2 linked regions of the Homo sapiens genome follow. The protein of the gene in region 1 purifies or fractionates together with the protein of each later gene. This does not show direct contact. Each region holds a gene or a part of one and is shown on either strand. Other genes may lie near its edges.

Region 1 (3,653 bases):
TCTATGGGACAGATCACCAGCACCGATTTCTCCTTTCCAGCTGTATCCTTTGGTCAATATCGAAAGCCTCCTTCTTGAGACTGAGACTCAGAGAGGGCAAGTCTCCACTCAGAATCAGCCAGTGGCAGCCGGGTGCAGTGGCTCATGCCTGTAATCCCAGCACTTTGGGAGGCTGTGGCAGGCAGATCACGAGGTCAGGAGTTTGAGACCAGCCTGGCCAACAAAGTGACCCCTGTCTCTATTAAAAATATAAAAATAGCCGGACATGGTGGTGCATACCTGTAGTCGCAGCTACTCGGGAGGCTGAGGCAGGAGAATCGCTTGAACCCGGGAGGCAGAGGTTGTGGTGAGCCGAGATCACACCACTGCACTCCAGCCTGGGCAACATAGCAAGACTCCATCTCAAAAAAAAAAAAAAAAAACCAGCCAGTGGCTTCTCATCGTTCTTGCTGTATTAGGCTGAACTATATAAAATGATCAGTTTTTGGTTTTGATCCATGAAAACATCCATATCCGTTTTGCATATTCTAACTTGCATTAAATCCAAAACTCGTCACCTTGGCATGCGGGGCCCTACATGATGCAGCCCCTTTCTGCCTCTTTTGGCTCCTTCTTCCTCCTTTCCCTGTGCTAAACACCAGATGGGGTCCAGCCTGGGAGTAAGGGGCAACTGCCGCTCGCCTCATGCAGTGCCTGCTCCAGCATCCCATGCTTCCTCCTGGGAAACTCACCAGTCAGCATGAACTGATAGGCGTTGTCAGAGATGGAGAAGATGTGGGGTGGGGCCTCCTGGCGCTTTTTGCCTCGGTAGCCTTCCACCACCTCGGGGTTGTACACCGGCAGCCACTTGTAGGGGTTGACAGTGACACAGAAGAGGCCTGAGTAGGTCTGTGGGAGGAAAAACATATACGTGCGTATATGTATGTATGTGCATATGGAAAACCCCTTGCCTTTATTATTATTATTGTTTTTTTTTTTTTTTGAGACGGAGTCTCACTCTGTCACCAGGCTGGAGTGCAGTGGCACGATCTTGGCTCACTGCAACCTCCACCTCCCGGGTTCAAGCAATTCTCCTGCCTCAGCCTCCCGAGTAGCTGGGACTACAGGTACATGCCATCACGCCCGGCTAATTTTTGTATTTTAGTAGAGATGGGGCTTCACCATGTTGGCCAGAATGGTCTCGATCTCTTGACCTCATGATCCACCCGCCTTACCCTCCCAAAGTGCTGGGATTACGGGCGTGAGCCACCACACCCAGCTGCCTTTATTATTATCTCATGTTTCTTTGGGATAAACTTATAAAGGGGGGAGGCTACCATTCCTATTTATAGTGAGGCACTGAGACTCAAAAAGGGGAGTGGCGACCCTCCCACAGTTGGTAAGTCACAGCACCCCGTGACCAAGCCTGGCCCCAGCTTCCCCGCTCTCCGGCTCCTGGTCCTCCTTCCCACCTTCCTTCTTCCTGCCCCATCCACCTCTTGCTTTCTTGCCTTCTTTCTCCTCCGTCTTTGTGTTTTGTTCATCAGCTAGGCAAGCACTCATCTTCCAGAATCCCACGGCCCACACACATACCTCTGCCTCCCTCCCCTGCCCGCATATCTAATGCCCCAGGGAAACCACGTCGAAAGCCCTCGCTGACATAGATCATCCAAGATGTGTAACGGTCCTTCAGGTTGTACAGCACGGCTGGCTCATTCAGGTGCGTCAGCATGGCCATGTCTTCGATCCTGTCGAACTTGGGGGGGTTCATGGCGTACACATCCTCTGGTTTGACCACCAGGGTCTAAAAAGGAAGAGGCACAGTGCTTCACTAAGATGGTCTGCACGTCTTTTTTTTTTTTTTTTTTTTTTTTTTTTTTGAGACGGAGTCTTGCTTTGTCGCCCAGGCTGGAGTGCAGTGATGCGATCTCGGCTCACTGCAAGCTCCACCTCCCGGGTTCACACCATTCTTCTGCCTCAGCCTCCCAAGTAGCTGGGATTACAGGCGCCCGCCACCACACCCGGCTAATTTTTTTTATTTTTAGTAGAGACGGGGTTTCACCGTGTTAGCCAGGATGGTCTCGATCTCCTGACCTCGTGATCCACCCGCCTCAGCCTCCCAAAGTGCTGGGATTACAGGTGTGAGGCACCGTGCCTGGCCTGTCTGCACGTCTTGTCTGCTGCCCCCACCAAAAGACCAAGAGACTCTTGAGCCGAGATGGAAGGGCCAAACCCTAGAACAAGCCCAGCTCACAGCGAGAGGAGGAAAGGCTATGGGGCGGCTTGTGGTGGTGCTGATGAAATGGGGTTTGTTTCTGTTATTCAGGGTGTCTTCTTCCTCCCCATTGGGCCTGAGGTGAGAGACGGATGTCGGAAATGAGAAAAGAGGATCTGTGTGGGTGGATATGGGTGATGGTGGCTGGGAACGGGGCCAGCAGGAACCTTTCAGCTCAGTCAGTAACACTGCCTGGACCAAAATCCAGCTCCAGCAGCTGGCTCTTTCCTGTCTACTGAGAGAAAATGACGCATATGTCCCCTGCAGTCGTGAGGCAGGGACCGAAGAGAATGAGGAAGGGGCATTGGATTGCCAGGCTGGTGCCCATGGATTGCCAACATTCTGAGCTCTCTGAAAGCAGCTGTCCAGCCCCCGGCCCACCTCTTCCCCCTTCACCACCCAGCCCCAGCATGCTCAGGAAAGGGCCCCTCAGTTGCCCTCCCCACCCCTTTCCTGCCCTTTCTGGGGTCAGAGTGTTATAAGCCAGGCAAACGGCACCATGAGGCAGAGCAGTGGTTCTGAGCACCTGCACTTCTCTCAGCAGGACAAACCCCCACACCCTCGGGAAGCTGGAGGACCTCAGGCACAGGGGGTGGGGAACTTGTCTTCCTCTTCCCTGCCCTGTCCTCACCTCCTTTTTCTCTGTGACCTCCTCTGAAATGGTCAGTTTTCCTGGTTCTGTCTCTGGGCAGTGTGGATGGGAAACCTGCCTTTTCCCTGCCTTCAAGCAGGGATTCATTCAAACCATCCCGGCCAATGGGCCCTGGCTGTCTATGATGGTCTCTTAGGTTCATCTTAGATTATCATTCACTGTATCTAGCTTCCTCCTTCCCTGACGTGTTAGCAGCCCATTCTTAGCTCCTTATTGGAAATACACAGAGAGCCACCTTTTCGGAGCTCCAATGCTTGGTAGCACTGCAGGGCGGTTCTTATTTTTTGGGGGGACCGAGTCTTGCTCTGTCTCCCAGGCTGGAGTGCAGTGGCGTGATCTAGGCTCACTGCAAGCTCCACCTCCCGGGTTCACGTGCAGGGCGGTTTTTAATGCCTTTTTTCCTTCATGCCCAACCCAATGATAGTATTTCCTTTACTTGTCTCTTTTATTTTCTTTCTTTCTTTCTCTTTCTTTCTTTCCTTCCTTCCTTGCTTTCTTTCTTCCTTCTTTCTTTCCTTCCTTCCTTCCCTCCATCTCTCTTTCACTCTTTCTTTCTTTTTTCCTTTTTTTGCTTTTTACTTTTCTTGGGACTTTTCCAGATTCTCCTGATGTGGATTTTAGAAACTAGTGAGCTCCAGAATTCCTCGCAGCACCCCCACAGTGGCTTGGGCCAGAATGTAATGGGCTGCAGTGCTCATCCCCTTCATGATACAAGGAGGCTGCTATTTCACTGAGCTTGTGGTCCCC
Region 2 (3,746 bases), on another chromosome or scaffold:
TCCTGCCTGGGTGACTTAGCAAGTCCCTGTCTAAATAAATAAATAAATAAAATGTGAATGGAAGTAAGAATGCTAGGTAAGAGAAGTATAGTGGTGGAGTGGTATTTTGAATATATGTGCACATATGTTTTTATTTCACCATAGAAAAGGTTTGGAATGCCTTCATTGTCACCTTATGTTTGAGACAAAACGAAACTGTGGCTAAAATTATAGAAGCATTTTAAGGGAAGTACTGAAACTGATGCTAACAAAATGAAATTTTTGTCTTAGTATTTTACATGCCAAAGTAATACATCTAAATCCTTCATCTATAGATAAAATTTGTCTTTTTAGTCTTTCTTAGTGCATTTTGGGCTGCTATAACAAAATACCTTAGATGAGTAATTTATACATGACAGAAATTTAGTGCTCACAGTTCTGGAAGCTGGGAAGTCTAAGATCAAGGTTCCAGCCAGTAGATCTGGTGTCTGATGAGGGCTCATTGCTCATTTATGGCACCTTCTGTGTGTCCTCACGTGGTGGGATAACAGACTCCCTCAAGCTTCTATAAGGATACTAACTGCATTCATGTGGTCAGAGCCCTCATCACCTAATCATGTCCCAAAGGCCCCACCTCTTAATACTATAGCACTGCAGATTAGGTTTTAACATAGCAATTTTGGGAGTACACAAACATTTAGACCATAGAGCTGATAAGCTTTTTTTTTTTTTTTTTTTTTTTTTGGTGAGGTGGAATTATATTGTATAAATTTTTTTTCTTTCATCAGCTAAATTTTTCCTTTAGTGTCACAGTGAGCTTATGGGATATGTGGAGCATACATCTCATCTCATAGCTGAAATGCATATGTCTGTTGGTCTTCAACAACATTTCCATTTTCTTATGTTACATATGAGTGTTATATTTGCTTATTTGTTTGTTTTCGAATATAGAACCTGAATTTGAAACTAGCCTACTACATGGGCAGGGTGAACTCTGTTAATCAGGTGTCTACAGAAATCTGAACCAATGGAGTCTGCTTCTGTGGGTCTTGAAGAGTCATTTTTAAGAGTTTATAGACATGGAATATCTTGACTTGTACATTTTTGCTTCTGTCCTGACTGTTCTTATTTATCAAGTGATAAATTCTTGTATACCTTTTAATAGTCCTAGATTAAAGGTATATGGGTTTGAGGAGGATTCAGTGTTGTTAAAACATTTTGTAAGGCACTGTGTAGCCATAAAGCTCAACGTTTCTGATATCCTTCAGCATAAGAATTTAATAATCAACCCAAAATAGAGAGACATGAATATTTGTGGTCTTGATTAGTTAGAAAATTGCTGTACTTATTTTGGGGTTTTTAGTTATTTGGGAGAAATATTTTAAATCTCCGTGTGTGTGCATTCTTTACTTGCGTGTAGTCCTTATTGTGAAAGGGGGATGACTTTGTTATGTATTTTTTGTGACTAAACTTTAATTGATCCTTCTGTTTCTTAATCTGTTCTTCTCCAGATCACTGATTTTATGAGTTTTCAGAATAGTAAGTAAGGGTATGAAGACTTACAGTAACTAAAGCAATGTTCATGGGGAAATCTATTTTTACACAGGTTTTCTTGTCTTGACAAGATGCTTGAAAAACCAAGAGGATATGAAAATCTGTCTCTGGAGAAACAAAGACGCAGGCATACTCAGCCAGAAATCTGAGTTTTGTGAGACTTGGTAATACAGAGATGGACAATCGTACTGGGGTAAAAAAACCCTGCTGAAGAGAGGACAGTGACCACAGAACTCAGTGTACCAAACATGCATACAAAGGACACACAGGGATTTTGAAAATGCTGCACATCCCTTAATAGTCATCTACATAGGTAATACTGATAAACATTTTGTATTCAGACGCCAAAGTTAACTGATTTAAAAGTTGATTTACTTTTTATTAAGTTCTCCAGAGCTGCACAACTAGTTATGTTTTGATTTGTTTTGTTTTTTAATTTGGGGTCTCTTTGTTTTCCCCAACATAATGTTCATAATGTTTCTGCATTCATCTGTTCTTAAATTGAAAAACATATAATTTACTTCTTATAAATTGAAGTCTTAAATGTGAAACCAAGAAATGTAATCAAGCAGTAAAAACATCTGAATGTAGACCATGATCTCAAGTTCTTCCATTTTCTCCCCCACGAGTGGAAAATAGACTTCTACATAGGAAAGCTAAAATATGTTAATATTTTTAAATTAAAGGTTTAATATCAGAATGCAGTCCAAAGAGCAAATCATATTACATAATTACATTTTAATTAAATATAGAATATTCTACTGAATTGCAATTTATTAAATATTCTTATCCTCTTAAATAAAACTGCTCAACAGTTAATCAGCAGTGAATCATCTTGCAGCTATGCAATTTAAAAAAAATACAGATTACCAATTTCAAGTGCTGCCAGCTAAAATAACTGTTTTAACGGGTATCTTTTGTTTGTTCTTTTCACTTAATTATTTTATTGTGCTTTGCATCTCCAGGCAGTTCTCTCACATTTGGGTAAAATGTTTAGCAGGCTGTAAACTTAAGAAAAGGGTAAAATAAAATTTTCTGGAGAGGAACTTGGAATTTGAGGGAGATTTTATATACCTTTAAAAACTGTAATTTAATTGGGATGCCAGGTTTATAGCAATTTGCAACTTTAATTTTCCAGATAATCTGGAGGTTAGCATTTGATAAATGATTTTTTAAAGTAGATATGAAGATTTTGTTAATTTATAATTTATTCATGTGTTATTACTGTAATTGAAAATGTTATAGACACTTTTAAATTCAGTTTGTGTAGAAAGAAATGTGTTAAACAAAATTATGTTAATAAATATTCCCACATAATACATCTGAATGGTTAAAAATACTGGAAGAGTTGTCAGGGCTACAATAGTGAATGTCCTTTTTTTTAATATCAAAAATATCGATAAGTAGGTTTTGTGTTTTCAACGTAGGGAAAATGTTATCAGTGAATAGGTGGTGTACTTTACTTGGTATAATTTAAAGTTGCACAGTAAGTACTGTTTCCTTATTTTAATCTTTCTTTACTCATAATGTATTTAAGAATTTGCTGTTTTATTTAACGCTGCTACTCTTAATCTTCTCTAAATTTTTCCCCCTACTTTCTTGCTTCTGTTTCACATTTTTTAAAAGGGCAAGTACAGGAGCAACTGCTGCTACCCAGAAAAATGTGTGTATTATAAATAATTAAAGAGTTTTTAATTGCTTTCTGTATGATTCCAGCTCAGATAACATTTTCCCTGAAGTTATGCTGTGAAATGCCTTTTGTTATGCTGCAATTGCTAAAGGAATCCAAAACCTCCATTGTGACAGCTGAAGGCACAGTTTAATAGGTGCTTTTTTACTAGTTATGAAAAATATTCGTCCCTTAAGGAAACGATTCTTTTTCTGTTTTTTTCTGTTACCATGAAGTCTTAATTTGATTTCATTTTATTTCACATTTTTGATTTTGTAAGCTTTCATACCCTCCTGCTCAACCCCCTCAAGTAAAACCTCTTAGAATGTGAATAATTGGTTCATTTTCTATTGCTGGTATACTCTTGTGATGAGAATTATTTTGTTGTCTTCCATTCTTAAAGGAAGAGATTTATTACAGCTGTGGGGATTAACTGTATTCTCCTGGAAGTTGATTTTCTGATAGGTTAATGCAAAAGTCATTGCAAAAACTGCTATTACTTTTGCGCCAATTTAATAGTTCACTTGTTTACTTTTTAACCTAT

The links. The genes of interacting proteins can lie anywhere in the genome.
Region 2: the proteins of MYH3 (region 1) and ZNRF2 purify together in Homo sapiens (affinity purification with mass spectrometry; one large-scale study listed by BioGRID and IntAct). This does not show direct contact.

The regions. Positions count from the first base shown.
Region 1 is NC_000017.11:10,650,781-10,654,433, forward strand, and holds part of MYH3 (myosin-3), read right to left. Parts: intron 1,784-3,653; coding exon 1,640-1,783; intron 889-1,639; coding exon 732-888; intron 1-731. UniProt on the Homo sapiens protein: Muscle contraction.
Region 2 is NC_000007.14:30,364,450-30,368,195, forward strand, and holds the end of ZNRF2 (E3 ubiquitin-protein ligase ZNRF2), read left to right. Parts: intron 1-1,490; exon of another isoform or gene 1,491-1,555; intron 1,556-1,585; 3' UTR 1,586-3,240; downstream 3,241-3,746. UniProt on the Homo sapiens protein: E3 ubiquitin-protein ligase that plays a role in the establishment and maintenance of neuronal transmission and plasticity. Ubiquitinates the Na(+)/K(+) ATPase alpha-1 subunit/ATP1A1 and thereby influences its endocytosis and/or degradation.